Homo sapiens: one gene and its partners. The protein of the gene in region 2 purifies or fractionates together with the protein of the main gene of each other region. This does not show direct contact. Each region holds a gene or a part of one and is shown on either strand. Other genes may lie near its edges.

What was found.
Region 1: the proteins of UQCRFS1 (region 2) and GFM1 purify together in Homo sapiens (co-immunoprecipitation; 2 studies listed by BioGRID and IntAct, with this or other methods). This does not show direct contact.
Region 3: the proteins of UQCRFS1 (region 2) and PNPT1 purify together in Homo sapiens (co-immunoprecipitation; 2 studies listed by BioGRID and IntAct, with this or other methods). This does not show direct contact.

The regions. Positions count from the first base shown.
Region 1 is NC_000003.12:158,689,509-158,696,096, reverse strand, and holds the end of GFM1 (elongation factor G, mitochondrial), read right to left. Parts: intron 5,935-6,588; coding exon 5,774-5,934; intron 4,959-5,773; coding exon 4,905-4,958; intron 4,762-4,904; coding exon 4,630-4,761; 3' UTR 516-4,629; downstream 1-515. UniProt on the Homo sapiens protein: Mitochondrial GTPase that catalyzes the GTP-dependent ribosomal translocation step during translation elongation.
Region 2 is NC_000019.10:29,204,806-29,210,170, reverse strand, and holds the end of UQCRFS1 (cytochrome b-c1 complex subunit Rieske, mitochondrial), read left to right. Parts: intron 1-2,012; coding exon 2,013-2,623; 3' UTR 2,624-4,851; downstream 4,852-5,365.
Region 3 is NC_000002.12:55,690,830-55,698,151, forward strand, and holds the start of PNPT1 (polyribonucleotide nucleotidyltransferase 1, mitochondrial precursor), read right to left. Parts: upstream 3,016-7,322; 5' UTR 2,995-3,015; coding exon 2,834-2,994; intron 1-2,833. UniProt on the Homo sapiens protein: RNA-binding protein implicated in numerous RNA metabolic processes. Catalyzes the phosphorolysis of single-stranded polyribonucleotides processively in the 3'-to-5' direction. Mitochondrial intermembrane factor with RNA-processing exoribonulease activity.

The DNA.
Region 1 (6,588 bases), on a different chromosome or scaffold from region 2:
GAAGAGATACTCCTTGTAAATTATCAGAAATAATCCACAATGATTAAATTATGCCAAAATCAAGTGATAAATTTCTGTAACTGAAGTTCCCCAAATGATCTTCAAAAAAAGTCCTAAGAGCATTACAACAGTATATTCAATGTCCTATGATATTTAATCAATCTTTTAGCGTCACATTAAGGACTAGAAAAGGGCATTTACTTGGTGTTTCAGCTTTCTAGAGTCGGAGCTTTCTCAAAGTCCTCATCCCCATAAATGCATTTTTCTTTTTTCCTTTTTTTGTTTGTTTGTTTGATCTTCACTGGGCAGCTATCTTGACTTTGGAAGGAAATGGTTATCTATCCCAGGATGTCCCACACCAGCTGATTATGTTGCCCAGGCTGGTCTCAAACTCCTAGGCTAAAGGGATCCTCCCACCTCGGCCTCCCAAAGTGTTGGAATTACAGGCATGAGCCACTAAAGGCATTTTTCATTACTGAGATTAGGCTCACAAACACATCCATAATCCAACCAGGTAATGTTTCTAAGGTAACCTTTTAGCAGATTTATTACAGTACAATAGATTATGAGGGGGAATTCTATACATACAAATAATATACAAACACAATTACCTAATTTATTAATTTACAAAACCCAAAAAGTTAAACCAACTAAAAATTTATCAGTATCACCATCAGAACATCTTTTCTTTTTTTTCTTTTTTTTTTGAGACAGAGTCTCACTCTGTTGCCTAGGCTGGAGTGCTGGAGTGCTGGAGTGCAGTGGTGCCATCTCAGCTCACTATAGCCTCCGCCTTCCGGGTTCAAGCGACCCTCCTGCCTCAGCCTCCTGAGCAGCTGGGGCTACAGGCGTGAGCCACCCCGCCCGGACGATTTTTGTATTTATAGTAGAGACGGGGTTTCACCGTGTTGGCCAGGGTGGTCTCGAACTCCTGACCTCAGGTTATCCACCCACCTTGGCCTCCCAAAGTGCTGGAATTACAGGCGTGAGCCACCACATCCGGCCTCAGAATATCTTTTCTAGCACAAACTCTAAAATTGTTAACTTAATTTTACCAACATTGGTTTCACTAGCTAATAAAACAGAAAAATCACTTGGCATAAAATGAAAAACTATTCCCTATGTCCTCTTTTCATTAACAGTCTAAATTATTCTGAATCACTCTTAGCTAATTACAATTACATACAGCTTGACATTCATTTTCCTAATACCTTTAGAACTTTCTTAAGACATATAAAATAATACCAGGGATTTTGTCTACATTCCATTTTATTTTATTCATACTTTCATTTTCTTCCTACCTGAATTACGAATTTTTAGAAGTTGAACAAGTTCTTTTGAAAGTCAGTTGGAAGCTTATATAAATAGGAACACTTTTTTTTTTAAGGTAAAGTTATCAAGCCAGGCATGGTGGTGTGTGCCTCTTGTCCCAGCTACTCCAGAGGCTGAGGCCAGAGGACTGCTTGAGCTCATGAATTTGTGAGCAGCCTGGGAAACACAGCGAGACCCCATCTCTTTAAGTTCAGGGGTTGATGTGCAGGCTTGTTACATAGCTAAACTTGTGTCCTGGGGGTTTGTTGTACAGATTATTTCATCATCAAGGTATTAAGCCTAGTACCCATTAGTTATTTTTCCTGATCCTCTCCCTCCACCCACCCTCCATCCTCCAATAGGCCCCAGTGTGTGTTGTTCCCCTCTGTGTGTCCATGTGTTCTCATTATTTAGCTCCCACTTATAAGTGAGAACATGCAGTATTTGGTTTTCTTTTCCTATGTTAGTTTGATGAGGATAATGGCTTCCAGCTCCATCTATGTCCCTGCAAAGGACTTGATCTCATTCTTTTTTTATGGCTGCATAGTATTCCACAATGTGTATGTACCACATTTTCTTTATCCAGTCTATCAGTGATAGGCATTTAGGTTGATTCCATATCTTTGCCATTATGAACAGTTCTGCAATGAATGTGTGCATGCATGTGTCTTTATAATAGAATGATTTACGTTCCTTTGGGTATATAGTAATGGTATTGCTGAGTCAGATGGTTTTTGTCTTAGAAGACCCCATCTCTTAAAAAAAAAAACAGTTGTTAAACAAAAAAACCAAACTCTAATATCACACAAAAGAATACAATATGACACTCCTGAATTTCACAGATTTTTCATTTCATGTCTTGGGCTTAAGCGCAGTGCAGGCAATATTTCAGCGGTCTTTAACTTTGTCTGCATATTAGAATCACCCAAAAAAGTTTTTATCTTGATCCAGCCAAATAATCTAAATATCTGGGTGTAGGCCTAGGTATTTCTTTTTAAGGCTCCCCCAGTGATTTTTAAAGTACAGTGAGGGTTGGGAATCAGTACAATACTACCTAGTGCTGCTACTGTTGTCCAATACAAGGATGTAATATTTGAATTAGCCAACAATTATCCTTCTTGATAGTAGTATAAACAACCCTCACCTATGAATATTCTCATTAATTTTTTTCCATGCTACAGACTTTGGTTGGTATGTGATCTTTGCCAACTATAACTAATGACTTAGAAAGAGATGTGGGTTCTAGTCCTGATCTGTCCATTTGTGAACCTATTCTAATTACTCCCACCAGCTAGGCCTGAATCATTACCTATGAAATGCTGGTGTTGGATTAAATATCTAGGACCTTTTCTAACACTGTAACATTATAACCAGGATGTTTTACAAATTAAAAATAAGTAAGTTTTTTACTTATTTATCCAGTTTAGTTCCAGTAGTTGTGACTATTCTCAATAGCCATAGGAATCATGCTAAATTCCATGAAGGTACACAGAATGTATTTCCTCATTAGGAACAATATTCAAAGTTATTGTGAATGTCACAAGATGCTGAGGAAATGCCAAAGCAACCACATTTTTTCAGACCTGATGCTACTGTAGCAACAGACATTCATGGGGGAAATGCACTTGGTGAATAATTGTAATTAAAGTATCAATTAAAAAACTTAGGTTTTGTGGTCTCATTAAAGTTATTTACCTTATCTGTGCTTCTTCTATTACAAAATGGACATAATAATAGTACTTACTCTCGGGGTTGTGAGAATGAAATTATACAATGCATTTAAAGTATTTAGCAGCCAGGCATGGTGGTTCATGCCCATAATCCCAGCACTTTGGGAGGCTGGGGCAGGCAGAGAGCTTGAGCCCAGGAGTTTGAGACCAGCCTGGGCAATATGGCAAAACCCTATCTCTTCAAAAAATGCAAAAAATTAGCAGGGAGTGGTGGCGCACACCTGTAGTCCCACCTACTTAGGCAGCTGAGATGGGATAATTGCTTGAACCCAGGAAGCAGAGGTTGTAGTGAGCAGAGATAGTCCCTCTGCATTCCAGCCTGGGGGATAGAGTGAGACCCTACCACAAAAAAATAAAAATTAAAAAAAAAAAAGTATTTAGCAAATGCCTTGAAAACATGTGCTCAATACTTTTTAAAGATCTTTTTCCCCTAGAAACCTTAAAGTATAAAGCCACGTCTATAAGTCAAGAAAAGCAAAGGAATTTAAAATCAATTATTTTATTTCTACCATCAGGTAATGAAAAGGACTAGGATCCATCTATACCATCAGATGATTTTTGGATGAAGCAATTCTGAACCGGGTAATAGAACTGCTTGGGAAAGCCCAACTTTTTCTGGAAACAAAAGATTAACATTTGTCCCTTCATAATCTCAGTGAATACAATATACGATAAATTCCAAGGAATTCAAATTTAACTAGCATTCATTAGGTTGATGAAACTAACTCTATAAATTACATTTGATTTAGCTGTACAAAAACATTAAGATGAACACAAACAAGAATAGTATATGCAAGGGTCTACTTTTTACTTCACAATAGACCACAAGGAAGTAATACTTATACTCCTAAAACAGAGGCAGTTACAAATTTGCAGAAACCACAAACTGAAATAAACAGACATATATAAAACAGAGAGAAATTTGGCTAATATTTTAATATCCCAATGAAGAATCTGAAAAACACTCTCTATGAAGAACATACGGAATCCACTCTTCAACAGAAAAGCCTGCCCATTAATGACACTCCAAGAAGTGTCATGATATATGCGATTCACTTTCAAGTCTTCAGCAAACTAAAAATAGAGTTATGAGACTTAAACAGATAATAGACAGTGAAAGCAAATATGACAAAACAAATTATTATATGATAAACAACCCGTTAACAAAGGAAGGTAGATGGAAAGTATGTGGTTATTCTTTGCATTTTTTCAGCTTTTCTCTATGTTGAAAACTCTTATGATACAAAATTTGGAAATGAACATACATTCTAAGCTTAAAAGTATAACTGAAATTAGTCTCTTTTCCCCTTAAATATTAAACATATTTCAGTAATAATTATATTTTATTTGAGGATTTTCAATGAACTATAAAACCAATCAATAGAGTTGAGATAGACATAGAATTACCTTTGAATATAACAGAAGCTCCTGAATATGAACAAGAAGGGCTTCTTTTGAAGAAAGAAGAGCCCGCTTCCTGGGCTCAGAATTTCTTGTTTCAGCAGCCTGAATTTATTCCACTGGAATCCATCAAAGTATCAAAACCACGCAGATTCAATTAGAGTCAGTCAACTCACAGTAAGCAAAGTTAGTTCTTGGCTTTTCCTTTTTTAACAGGAAGTTGACCTGTAGCTTCCAAATACTTATTAATGACGTCTTCTTGTGTGGATGGTAAACATGGCTGATACCTGCTATACTCCATTGTGTATTCTCCCTTTCCCTAGGGATTTAAAAAAAAGAGAGGGTTTTTTGTTTGTTTGTTTGTTTTTTAAACTATCAAGTAAAAGTCATACAAGGTCAAGATTTTATAATATGATCATTCTGTAGGGTGGTCTTTTGAAGGGTAAGTTTAAATTTGCCTACCTCTGTGCATGACCTAAGTTCAGTGGAATAACCAAACATATCATTTAGAGGGACCTGAAAACAAACATAGTAGATATTTTAGCACTGCTTATTGGAAAATATTTGAGAAAAATACAGACGCATTTTAGCCATTTAATTCCTTTAGATTAAGATTTCTGCTCACTACTCTTAGTTTAAAATAATTAAAAGCCAAAGAGAAACATTTCTGTTTTATTCCAAGTGGAAATCCTATTTGAAAATTATTTCATTTGACAGTCGCAACCAGAAACCAAATCTTTCCACTTCGTGGAGTGAACACCATTGACAGCCTTCCCTCCTCATCCCCACTCCGCTCTGTAGCCCCAGCTCAAGCACTCAGAAGTGCTTCTTCTGAGAAAATGTGAATACGACTTTCCTTTGGACACCTTAATGATATGCTGAGAGTAGTGTTTTCCAGGAGGCCTTATGAAATGTAATAAACACCTTCTCCCTTGAGATTTAAGTCAAGAAAGGTACAGGCAAGGTAATTAAGAGGGATAAATTAAAGATAACAATAAAGTAATTATGCAAATAAAGCTAAAATGAGAGAGATAATATACATCTTATTTTATTTTTCCTTTTCTTTTTAATTTGTCCATCTGTGCTTATTCAAGAAAGAGAGATAATATACATCTAAGAAAATGACACATTCACAAAAGGTCAAGATAAAATAAATCTTATTTTTAACTTCTGCACTTAAGAGTTGCTTTAATAGCAAATTACAGAAAATGCCACATGTATAAAGCCACAAATTCAGCAAGGAAATGTGTCCATTTGCAAAAACAAAAGCTAACCTGGATTTCCTTCTATGGTTAATAAAAGCAGGACTGCCAATGACCAAGACTACTTACATCTGCATACAGTGTAAAATAGTCCTCAACTCCATCTTGCCCAGTGATTACCCCATGGCGTCGGTTAATTCCTGCAATTACTTGTCCCTGAAATTCATTTGGAGCTACAACTTCCACAGCCATAATAGGTTCAAGAATACATAATGTTGCATTTGCCAAGGCTGGGTTAAAAAAAAAAAAAAGTTCATTAGTCTTCATACAAACTACAACTCTTCTGTCCAGATATAAAAAAGGGAGAAAAATGATGCTTTCCCAAAGGTACAAACACAAACGGCAAGGTTAAAATATTCGACCTAGACTCATTTTTCCTGTAGTAATAACAGTCACTCTTCTAAATGGAAATTCCAACATTTAATTTTAATATTGGTATTTCCATTATCATATTTTTATCCTTAAAACTCATTAAATAGCAGAGAATAATACAAAAGGGTCTTAAAACAACATCTGATGAAGTCCTTTACCATCTAAATTATCCAGCTGAGTTATTTATTCTCTCTGAAAATCGTCAGGGTTAAAGATAATAACTGTTACAAATTTGACCAAGGTAAACCCATTCTTTCTTTTTTTTTTTTTTTTGTCACCCAAGCTAGATTACAATGGGGCAATCTCGGCTCAATGCAACTCTGTCTCCCAGGTTCAAGCAATTCTCCTGCCTCAGCCTCCGAGTAGCTGGGATTACAGGTATCTGCTACCACTAATTTTTGTATTTTTAGTAGACACAGGCTTTCGACATGTTGGCCAGGCTGGATAAACCCATTCTTTCTTGTGGTCCCTGGCAGGCAGTTATTTTTAATTATAAGAAAATAATTTTTGTC
Region 2 (5,365 bases):
AGGAAGGTTGTACTATTTTCATGCAGATTTCCAAGGCGCATTGGAGCTCAACCTTAAAATAAAACTTGTTTTGTTAAAATTCCTTAAATTTTCTCCTTTAAGTATTTGATTTTGCTTTAGGTTAGAATTAAATCTAGCATCTTACTGAAAGTCAGACCTAATGCAGCTCATGTAAATATTTGGAGAATGATTTTTGCAACAGGGCAGTTTAATTTCCGAAAGGATTCTTGGTGGTGTAGCCTACTAAAGTGTAACCAGCTAGATAGAGTGGGAGGAGACTTTTGCCACCAAATCTCTGAATGAGAAGGGCAAAGCCATTTTATTGAGTTTTCTTGTACATTTCCTTGTATACTGTTAAGGGTTGTGGATACTGTTTTTAATGTAGAAGTATGAACTTTTTATTCCTTTATCTTTTAGGGAGGAAGCTCATCTTTTCTGTAATCCCAGGTAGTGCTAGGAGCAAGTAATTTATGCTTAATTCCAAATGCCAGTATATACTGGCAGGTTAGCATTTATTTGTTAGAGTAGTAGTATAGGATGTAATGTCACTTTGACTCCACAGATTCTGGGATGTGAGTCTCAAGTTGCCATTATCTGTGTCCTGGTCTTCTCCAGGAAATGATTTAGTCAGAAAAGCACATAGAGTGATTTTGGTAGGTTTCATTATTGTTTGAATACTTCTGGCTTCCATAAAGTTATTGACCTTGAGAATCATGTGAAAAGCAGTTCAGGTATTCCATATTGTAATGTTTGACTACTCAAGGAAGTACAGTATATTAGGATGATATCCTAGTAGAGCAAGGTAGAATTGCAGTTTATTACAATAAAAATGCATCATAAAAGATCTTTATTTTGGATACACATTTTCTAAAAGAGGAATTTTTAGTGTCCCCTTTTTTAAAAAGGAAACTTTGTGGCAAATTTCTTAAGATGAATATACAATTTGCAAAGAGGTTTGCTTCCTGAAACATACCTAAAAGTGGTACTAGGTAAAATTTTTTTTTGGTCAGATATTTAAAAATAGTATTGGAGAGAGGGATGTAACTGTGTCTTGTTTTTGTTTTTTAAACTACCAAAGAAACTCCTTGCTCCCAAAGTACTACATAGTAATTATTTGTTTAACATTCATTTGAGCTCTTTTATGGCCTAGACTAGAAGTGCCCCAGTTGAGAGAACTACAGCAGTGAAAAGGGAAGATAATACCCCTACTTTTACAGTAACTATTGCCCTTTACTGAAGAGGGGGAGATATGAAAATTTTGCCCTTTTTTTCCCTTGCTAAATTGAAATAATTAGTTCTTTTGCAGTTTTCATTTTATTTTGAGAGCTCTGATAAGGATGTCCTTCTCTGCCTATTAGTGGTTTTAAGTTAAAGTAATACTAATTTATACACTAGAGTATAAAATAGAAACGCTAATTTTTCTGCAGCAGAGTTATACAGTTCACAGAATGTTTATTATATCATTATTATTTTATGAATTAACAGTTTTTTCCGAGAACATAGATTGGACTATAAGGGGCAGACATTTGCCTTAATAAGGTGATCACACGTCAACTTACTGTGTGGACTAGATGAGTTTTAGGGTGTCCTTCTAATCCAGAGAGTATGGGAGGTATTTAGCATGATTTATATAGTAAGTCTTGGCAGTTGAATTTTCGGAAACTTTGAGTTATTACTGTTTATTTTGCTGTTTAACGTTTTTAGCATGATGCACTGAGGTGTTGTGAATCCTGAATCAGCAATGTTCAACCAACTAGGGGGAGCTCAATTTACAAATAGTATCTTGTGATTTCATACCAGTATGATAGGTGGTGGTTCACTTCATTTCATTTTTAAGATTTTATATGCTAGCACCGCCAATTTGACTATTTCTGAGACCCAGTGAGTGCCATATTTCACATTTTTAGAATTTGATTTTTTACCTGTGAATCCATAAAGGGCTATTTCCTGATATATACTCCCTTCGGGATACTCATCTAATTGTGTTTTTTAACCTTCTGTTTGTCTTGCAGTCCCTGCTTCTGTTTGTTATTCCCACACAGACATCAAGGTGCCTGACTTCTCTGAATACCGCCGCCTTGAAGTTTTAGATAGTACGAAGTCTTCAAGAGAAAGCAGCGAGGCTAGGAAAGGTTTCTCCTATTTGGTAACTGGAGTAACTACTGTGGGTGTCGCATATGCTGCCAAGAATGCCGTCACCCAGTTCGTTTCCAGCATGAGTGCTTCTGCTGATGTGTTGGCCCTGGCGAAAATCGAAATCAAGTTATCCGATATTCCAGAAGGCAAGAACATGGCTTTCAAATGGAGAGGCAAACCCCTGTTTGTGCGTCATAGAACCCAGAAGGAAATTGAGCAGGAAGCTGCAGTTGAATTATCACAGTTGAGGGACCCACAGCATGATCTAGATCGAGTAAAGAAACCTGAATGGGTTATCCTGATAGGTGTTTGCACTCATCTTGGCTGTGTACCCATTGCAAATGCAGGAGATTTTGGTGGTTATTACTGCCCTTGCCATGGGTCACACTATGATGCATCTGGCAGGATCAGATTGGGTCCTGCTCCTCTCAACCTTGAAGTCCCCACGTATGAGTTCACCAGTGACGATATGGTGATTGTTGGTTAAGAGACTTGGACTCAAGTCATAGGCTTCTTTCAGTCTTTATGTCACCTCAGGAGACTTATTTGAGAGGAAGCCTTCTGTACTTGAAGTTGATTTGAAATATGTAAGAATTGATGATGTATTTGCAAACATTAATGTGAAATAAATTGAATTTAATGTTGAATACTTTCAGGCATTCACTTAATAAAGACACTGTTAAGCACTGTTATGCTCAGTCATACACGCGAAAGGTACAATGTCTTTTAGCTAATTCTAATTAAAAATTACAGACTGGTGTACAAGATACTTGTGAAATCTGTAACTGACTTTATTTTCTTGCCCAAATATTTGCTTCCTGCTTTGCGTCAGGGACGCAGATTCTGCACGGTCATTGTTGGGATGAAGTAAAATTAACGGGTCATCTAAGTGTCTATGGCATTGACAGAAACAGTAGTATCTAGGTATTCCTTATTTACCGGACTTGGTAAGAGTCCTGGCTATGCATTTCCTCCCTACTGTGTAAGCCGTGTGATAATCTCAACACTAATCTGTGGGAAAGAGTCCTGAATGAGGCATTAGTAGCTCTGAGGGTTTATCTTCACGTCTGGTCTGCTGGTTTTTCTCCTTAAGTGACAGGCCAGGAAATTTTATTAGTCCCTTATGAGTGTAAATTAGTACTTAATCCTTTAGTCTTAATAGGCAGTGATGGGATATTACCTGAGAGAAACTTTCCAAAATGAGAGTGCTCTGCCATTTCGTTCATTTTGTGTGTGGTTCATCATGTCCCCAAAGTTCCTGCATCCACTCTATCAGGAGGCAGAAAGGGAGCATCTGAGACCTAATACTGCCTGCATGCAGAAGTGGTCCTGCTGGGTTTGTTTCTGTAGTGATGACACTTTGAATGTTTTTTCCTGTTGGGTTTACAGTCACTCAGCACTTTTCACTGTAAGATGGTGTGGAACCAGACGCAGAGCACATCGGAATTCACATCCTATTCTGCCTCCAATTACACAGGTGAAACAAGACTAAGGTCCATTTTCCCCTGGGAGTTGGGAGTGGGCTTTGTCCTTTGAGAATCACAGTCACTTTTTGATGTGTTTGTCTTTGCTGTTTAGAGGTGGACCAGTCGTGCTTTACTGAGTCTACCTGATAATCTCATGTACACTTTTTTAAAATGGCAAAAATGGTTAGGTTGGGTCTGCCCAAAGGGAACTGACCATCCAGGATTCCAGCCTTTGATGTTAATAGCTAGGTGTTGACAGAAAAAAGAAAATGTCAAACTTTCTATGCTTATGAGTAGATACTAGTCTTTGCTTCATTTTTACCATTCTAGAAATGAAATTAGCATGTGTGATAATTGGTGGGACACAGAAGTATTTTATATTCTGTGTCTCTAGATAGTGGAGGCACTCTTCGGATTGGGGGTTGGAGGAAGGGTTGGTGGCAGAGTTGGAATGTGAAACATTGAGTTGTGAGGGGAACACAGGTCCACACACTAAAAAACCTGTGCTGCCAAAAATGTCAACAGCACCCCCTCCCTATAGAGAAATACTGATAACCTATATCACCTCCCACCCTGAAGTGATACCTTGAAATTCTACATGGCAGTGGAGGACAGAAGTAGGAAGTTTGCAGGTCTCTAGGTACTCACTTAGTGCCGGAATTGCTATATTTGGTGGCTGCTTACTTCATCTTTCATATTTAGAGTTTGATGGTGGGATGCTGTTAAATTGTAGTAGACCATTTAGTTTTTAAAGAAGGCTTTGTTCCACAAGTGACAGGACAAGTCAAGTCACTTCATGCTGTTTTGCTGAATGGATACGGCAGACCTGTGTTAACATTTTTACCATTCTGTGAAAACAAAATCCTAGATAGTAGGAGAAAATTACTTACAGAATAAACCTGACCAGCTAGCACCCTGACATCAGATCATTAACCTACTGCATTTTATTGGGGATAATTCTTGGGACAATCTTGAGAGCCAAGTGTTTTCATTATGCTTTAAAAAGTGTTATAAAAATGGCCTTTTTGAAAATGTTGCATTATTTGTTAAAGATAACATCAAATTTTCTTTGGTCTTTCTGAGCATACCTTTGTAAAAACTTTGACTCAATCTGAGTGTATAGAGGGCATTTGTCCTGACTGGATCAAAATGTGCTTTAGTACCCTCATTTTTCTAAACTGTAGGAACATACTATTTAAATATCAGAAGTAATTCTTCATTCTCACAGTACTAAATTTCATTTTCTGTATTTTCATGTCGTTTGAATTTCATTGCATTTTGTATATTAACCCAAAATAATGTTTATATTTTATGGACTGTTATCCTTAGCCCACTGTTCTAACACACTTTATCACCACCTATTTGCTGGTGACTCCCCACAACCACTTCCCTGAGTTTCATATTCATGTGCTTACTGGGCATATATGTTTGGATGTCCTGTTGACACCTTAAACTCAAACTGTCTGAAAGGAAAAGATGTCATCTCTGTTTCCAATGAACCAGCTTCTCTATTTTAGTCAGTTGCCTCTCCATCGACCTTGTTAACTACCCGCCAGGCGAAAAACCTGTTAGTTTTCCCTGCCTCCTTTCCATCCATTATCTCCTCTCCACTTTGCCCCAAATCAGTCCCCTAGTTCTGCCAATCTACTCTTTGTTTTTCTTTTTTTTTGAGATGGAGTCTCAGTGTTGCCCAGGCTGCAGTGCAATGGCAAGATCTTGGCTCACTGCAACCTCCACCTCCCAGGTTCAAGTGATTCTCCTGT
Region 3 (7,322 bases), on a different chromosome or scaffold from region 2:
TGATGCTGGATTAGTATGTTGAGTAGATGGAAGGAATGAGATACTCAAAACCAGTCACACTGTGTAGTATCACAGACCTGCAACAACCTATAGCTGAAATCAGTATTAAGTAATGGTTTCATGAGGCAAATGTAAATCTGACATCTTGAAATTTTGTTTAACCCTGAGTAACATGCCACCAGTACTTCTCAAAACTTACCAGGAACTGGCATTCTGTCTACCAATGTAAATTCTGAATACCTAAGTGATCTCTGTGAAGGGGAGTGGAGGATCTTTAACTAGACAGAAGTGGGCCCAAAACACAGGGAAGAAAAACTGTGAAAGCTACAGTTCTACTCTACTAACGGGGCTACTGCCTTAGCATTTTGCCCACTGTGGCATATTCTGTTGAATATCCTCAGTGATTTGATACATAGTAGATGCTCAATAAAAGCTTGCTGAAATGAAAATTAAACACCTGCCTCCAAGGTTACTGTAAGCATTAAATATACTATCTGAAAAACACCTACAATAATTATATAATCTTCCAGAATGCAGTAAAGAATATATATGATAACAAATATAATGTGCCTGGTACATAGTAGTCACTCAATAAATGTTGCCAATGGCAAACAAGACAAAAATGAAAGAATTTATCCAGCAGGTATGATATTTTATTAGTCTAGTTATTTCAACACATGACACGAGTTTAAAAAGAACTACCTACAAAAGAGGAACAGGTTGATTAATAAATGAAAGAGTCAAAGTAGATTATTTATGGAAAATATGGAGGGCAGCAGCTGCATCTTGTTTTCAGTATCTAATGCCTATCTCACAGTATGTGTCTGTTGAATGAAATGTTCTGGGCATTTCTTTGAAGCATGTGTAGTCCTTGAAGAATGGAAGAGATGTCCACTTCCCTCAAAAATCAGAATTAATGAATGCTGGGAGTGGAATAAGCCTTAGAGATAACCTAGTCTAGGGGTGACCAAACTACAGCTTGTGGCCTATTTCTATATTACTCTTCAATTAAAAATGTTTATATATATATATATATATATATATATATATTTTTTTTTTTTTTTTTTTTTTTTGAGACAAAAGTTTCACTCTTATCACCCAGGCTGGAGTGCAATGGCACGATCTCTGCCACTGCAACCTCTGCCTCCTGGGTTCAACCGATTCTCCTGCCTCAGCCTCCCAGGTAAATGGAATTACAGGTGCTTGCCACCACGCCCAGCTAATTTTGTATTTTTAGTAAAGACGGGGTTTCACCATTGTAGCCAGGCTGGTCTCGAACTCCTGACCTCAGGAGATCCACCCACCTCAGCCTCCCAAAGTGCTCGGATTACAGGTGTTAGCCACTGTGCTCGGCCGTTTTTTAAAATATTTCTAAAGGGTTTGTAAACACATACACACAGTGTGTACCCCAAAAAGCCTAATATATATATTATCTGGTCCTTTATAGAAAAGTTTGCAGACCCTTGATGGAATCCACTCTCCACACTTTGCACAAGAAAATGGTGAATTAACCTGTTCAATGTCAACTACTTATCAAAGTTAGAGTGCGAGACCTGGATTCAAAATGATTTTTTTGCTTTTTGTATGAACTGGGGTCCAAATTTTTTCAAAGTACACGTAAAAAATTTAGATATATGAAGTTTGCATTAGCAATTCCATTTATTCTAAGAACGATTAAAGCAAACTTTTTTTTTAAAAAGCGGTCCCCTAAAAAAAAGTATGGGCTTTGTAAGCAAAAAACAGAAATTCAAAAACCACCTAGTCCCATAATACTAACTTTTTTATAGACTCTTAGAAAGTTATCTAACCTTTTTTGAGCCTCTGTAGTCTTAACTATAAAATGAGGGTAATAGTACCTTTACGACAGGTTTAAAAAGATTGCGAGGATCATATAACTGGCGTTCAAAAAACTGACTTTTCCTTTTCCTCCTAACCCAGGGTCATAGTGGTCACACTTTAGGCAATCAATTAGATTGGATGACATGATATCTTGTACTCCTAACTTCAAGTCATCCTTCCGTCTTAGCCTCCCAAAGTGCTGGGATTACAGGTGTGAGCGCCTGACCTTTTGCCATCTCTTTGCATCGATCTTTGCTTTTGTTTCTCTCTGTGTGTCTCCTTGCCTCTCTCCCTGTCACTGTCTCTCTCTCTCCCCTGCCTCCCTCTTGGTCTCTTTTTTTTGCTGTCTCTTTCTGATGACCTTGTTCCCATCTCTGTGCGTGTGTGGCTCTCTCCCTGTCCATCTCTTACCATCTCTGCCTTCCTCTCCCAGGTCTTAAACGAATATTTCCACAATGTCTGTGAACTGGACCTGGTGTTCAACTTCTACAAGGTAGGCTCCTGGTGAAGAGGAGGCTGAAGGAGCCCGAGGAGTGGGACGTGGGGGACCCGTGGTGCACTAGCCACCCGGAGCCTCTGCTGAGGTCTGTGTCCCAGCTCGAGGGGCATCAGAGCCCCAGCTTCCAGGGTCCGGGCCAGCATCCCGGGGGGCCTCGTCTCACCCACGTCAACTCGTTATTCCTAGGTGGAATGTTTCCCACTTAAGAGCCCAGTGGTCCCGGAAAGTAAAGAGATCGGAAGTCAGGTGGACGGACAGAGTCGGATGGAGCAAAGAAGCCCGGCACACACCAACAGAGAGAACGACATAGCGCGGGAAGGAGGGTCCGAGGAGACACATTCCAAACCCGGAAAGGGAAATTTGGAATTTAGGTTTAGGGTAAGGAGAGATTAAATAGAGCTGGGATACCGGGTTTCTACCCTGGGAGATGAATACGCTCAAGCTGGCTGGACAAGACACCTTATGACAATACAGTGAACGCACGTCACTCCTTACCTGTTGCCTAAGTCCACGGCCACAGCTCGAGACCCTGCGCTACTCCATAGTGCTCGCACTTGCAACTGGGTGAGTGCCCGATCCCGCCGTGGCAGAAGGAAAGGACCATCGCTCAGGGGCCGGAGCCGGAGGCACGAGCAGCAGTACCTGCAGGCCGCCATGACACCCGGCACGCGGTCAACGCAGGCTGTGCCCTGATTGGCTCACTCCGCAGACCGTGGGGCGGAGCCTGATGGAGTTTCGTTTCCGCGGTGCCCGAGGGACGCCGGGGTAACGGAAACCTTGGCCACCTTCTACGAAGACTAGAGAGGGTCAAACCTATCAGAACGCGATTATGTTGCAAACGATCTTTGTCTTTATGTGCCAACGAAAGGCAATTAGATAAATAAGGTTTTTGTGTGTGTACTATCGTAATTTAAAGGAGAAGTCCTAGAATAATGTAAATGTTTAATATGCAGAGTAAATTTATATTTACTTTTAATACTAGAAGTCATAGAACAACACATTATTATTATTTGGATCTGTGAACTAAGAATTAGAATTTGGGTGGTGGGCCTTGGAAAGAGATCTCCTTCTCCCCTTCTCCGCCCTGGTTTTTATTTTAAAAATTTCACATAGCAGATATGTTACTACAGCGATTTGTGTTAACCAATTTACAGTAAATTCATTTTTCATCGACTTGTAATTTTAGAAATCTTTATTGTCACTTCTGATTCATTTTCATTTCCATTGCTAATAATTAGCAATTTATATTTCTGTCCCTTTTGGTCGAACTCTTAAATGCAAAATGCCAGCTACTGTTTGAAGTAAATATTTTGTAAAATGAAAAAAAAAAGTTTTTGGGATTTGAAAAATTTTTAGAGAATGGATAAATTTCTTCCACCCCATTAATCCATTCTGTTAGAAATTCTTTATGTTTTTCCTTGAATGAACCAATGGGCATTTTCATATTATGATGTAAATTTTTTGTGTAAGGTGATAACCGCCTTACCCCAAAGAAAACCAAACAACAAAAACCCAACACTCATTCAAACACAGTTTTAAGAATTAAAAACGTTGGCTGGACGCTGTGGCTCACGCCTGTAATCCCAGCACTTTGGGAGGCCGAGGCGGGCGGATCACCTGAGTTCGAGACCAGCCTGACCAACACAGAGAAACCCCGTCTCTACTAAAAATACAAAACTAGCCGGGCATGGTGGCTTATGCCTGTAATCCCAGCTACTCGGGAGGCTGAGGCAGGGGAATCGCTTGAACCCGGGAGGCGGAGGTTGCAGTGAGCCGAGATCGCGTCATTGCAACAAGAGTGAAACTCGGTCTCAAAAAAAAAAAAAAAAAAAAAAAAAAAAAAAGTCCGGGCGCAGTGGCTCATGCCTGTAATCCCAGCACGCTGGGAGGCAGAGGCGGGTGGATCACGAGGTCAAGAGACCCAGGGCATCCTGGCCAACATGCTGAAACCGCGTCTCTACTAAAAATACAAAAATTAGCTCGGTGTGGTGGCGCGTGCCTGTAATCCCAGCTACTCCAGAGGCTGAGGCATGAGAATCGCTTGAATCCAGGAGGCGGAGGTTGCAGTGAGCCGAGATCGCGCCACTGCACTCCAGACCGAGACTCCATCTAAAAAAAAAAAAAAAAAAAAAAAAAATTAAAAATGTTGATCCGTGATGATTTAAAAAAGAAAAAAGAATGATGAGCTCTAAACAGACAAATGATTTGCTGGCAAAGCAGTTTTCTGACACCTTGCTTTCATGAGCTATTATTACTGATTTGGGATTTCCATTCCAATAGAGGGATTACCATTAACTTTGTTTACAGATTTTTAGTGTTAAAGCAGTTTTTGCGTCTCCTCCCTTTTACTTTACCTTGAGTTGCCACAGAGTTTTCCAGACCAATCTATTGAAATCTCTCATGAAGATAAATCTCTCAGAAAACCTACTTGCCACAATTGAACATGACTTTTGATTTATAGAGTAAGAATACAAAATCATCTTTTTGTTAATATACTTAATTACTATGTAATCATTTTCATTTGGGCAGTATTGCCTAATAGTTTAGAGCATAGACTTGGAGTTAGTCCCAGCTGGTTCCAATCTTGTCTCTGTTAATTACCAGTTGTGTGACTCTAGCTCTCTGAGCCTCAGTTTCCCCATAAAAACAGATAGTAATATGAATCTAATAGGGTTTTTGTAAGGATTAAAAGTGTCGGCCGGGCGCGGTGGCTCACGCCTGTAATCCTAGCACTTTGGGAGGCCGAGGCGGGTGGATCATGAGGTCAGGAGATTGAGACCATCCTGGCTAACAAGGTGAAACCCCGTCTCTACTAAAAATACAAAAAATTAGCCGGGCGCGGTAGCGGGCGCCTGTAGTCCCAGCTACTCGGGAGGCTGAGGCAGGAGAATGGCGTGAACCCGGGAAGCGGAGCTTGCAGTGAGCCGAGATTGCGCCACTGCAGTCCGCAGTCCGGCCTGGGCGACAGAGCGAGACTCCGTCTCAAAAAAAAAAAAAAAAAAAAAAGTGTCAGATGATATAATAGTACCTAGCACATTGTCAACACTCAATAAATGGTAAATTTAGCTTTCATCCAGCCTTTTCGTTTTTTTCAAGACAGAGTTTTGCTCTTGTTGCCCAGGCTAGAGTGCAGTGGCGTGATCTCAGCTCACTGCAACCTCCGCCTCCGGGGTTCAAGTGATTCCCCTTCCTCAGCCCTCCCAAATAGCTGGGATTACAGGTGCCTGCCACCATGCCTGGCTAATTTTTTGGATTTTTAGTAGAGATGGGGTTTCATCATGTTGGCCAGGTTGGTCTTGAACTCCTGACCTCAGGCAATCCACCCGCCACGGCCTCCCAAAGTGCTGGGATTACAGGCATGAGCCACCGCGCCCAGGCTTATCCAGACTTTTCTTAATTCTTCCTCCAGTTTCCAGGTATTCTGAACATTTTTCTCTTCTTCAGAACTCCTTGAACTCCTTGAATCGGTTAGCTTTTATCCAGCCAGAAGTGATGGAAAGCAGCATTTACCTATTAAGAATCCCCCACCCCCATTTCCTCACACAAATCTGATATAATTCAAATAGTAGTAATTGGATAGTAAACTCAAAAGCAAATGTAGGCACTAAAATCTTGCAGCAGAGCTTTATTATGAAGATATAGATGATACAGAATGCGTTTATATGTTTATATTAAGCATTTTTAGATTAGCGTAGAAAGAAAAATATAATAAGTTTAAATTCTTGTAGTTGTTACTACTGAAGCTATAATCCGTGAGGTTCAGTCTGAGATGTTATTCTGCAAGTAGAGTTATGTCAAGTGTAGTTCAACAGCCAAAATATAATTTAAAAGGGATTTATTTACCTATGACTGCTGAAGGACATTAAAAATGATCCAACTTAAATCCACCAGCAACTTCTCAGATCTCCTTTTCCCTTTTCTTCAAACTCTGATGAACCTGCATCAAAACAGTTAATACCACTGCATGTTCTGAATAAGCAACTACGTTAAGTAAAACACCATTGCATTAAATTATGCTTAACTACTTTTTTTTTTTTTGAGATGGAGTCTTGCTCTGTTGCCCAAGCTGGAGTGCAGTGGCACAATCTTGGCTCACTGCAACCTCCACCTCCTGGGTTCAAGCAATTCTCCTACCTCAGCCTCCCAAGTAGCTGGGACTACAGACGTGCGCCACCGCGCCCAGCTAATTTTTGTACTTTTAATAGAGACAGGGTTTCACCATGTTGGCCAGGCTGATCTCCAACTCCCACCCTCAGGTGATCTGCCTGCCTTGGCCTCACAAAATGCTGGGATTACAGGCGTGAGCCACAGAGCCCGGCCCTTTAACTATATTTTAATTTAGTTTGTAGTTTAGTTTAGACAGGATATACATTTATATTGCTTTTATGACTAAAAGCTGTAACAATATGGAAGTTATATTTTGTTATATAGTAACATTATAATTAAAAGTATCAGCAGTCCCTGAAGTGTTCAGGAAAAAATTCTTCTCTTGAAAGAATGTAGCCTACTCAACTTTAAGAAAGTCTGTGCTACACCGCTACCAGAAGGATCTTCTTTCTCAATCACAAATAGAATTGTGTCTCCATCCTGATTAAATTTTTTCAGTGGCTTCCTAAATCTTTAAGGATAAAATTTAAACTGCTTTGTATAGACTATAAGCTTTTCCTTTCCTATTGGCCTCATCAACTTTTTCTTACTACCCTGTTTCCTTCCCTTCCTCTTTTCACTTTATACTCCAAGTAAACTGAACTGCTTGTTCCCTTGCAATACTTCTCCTGCATCTGTGGCTTTGCAGGTATGATTCTCTGTGCTTGGCACACACTCCTCACATGCATCAATCAAACAAACTCAGTCTTCAGTACTATCCTCTTTACTTCCCTAGGCAGACTTATGGATACAATCTATGTCTGTCCTTCCACTTTATTAATGTATTTATGTAGTTATTAATTCATCTGTGCAAGTGAATGTGGGAATAGGTATTGCA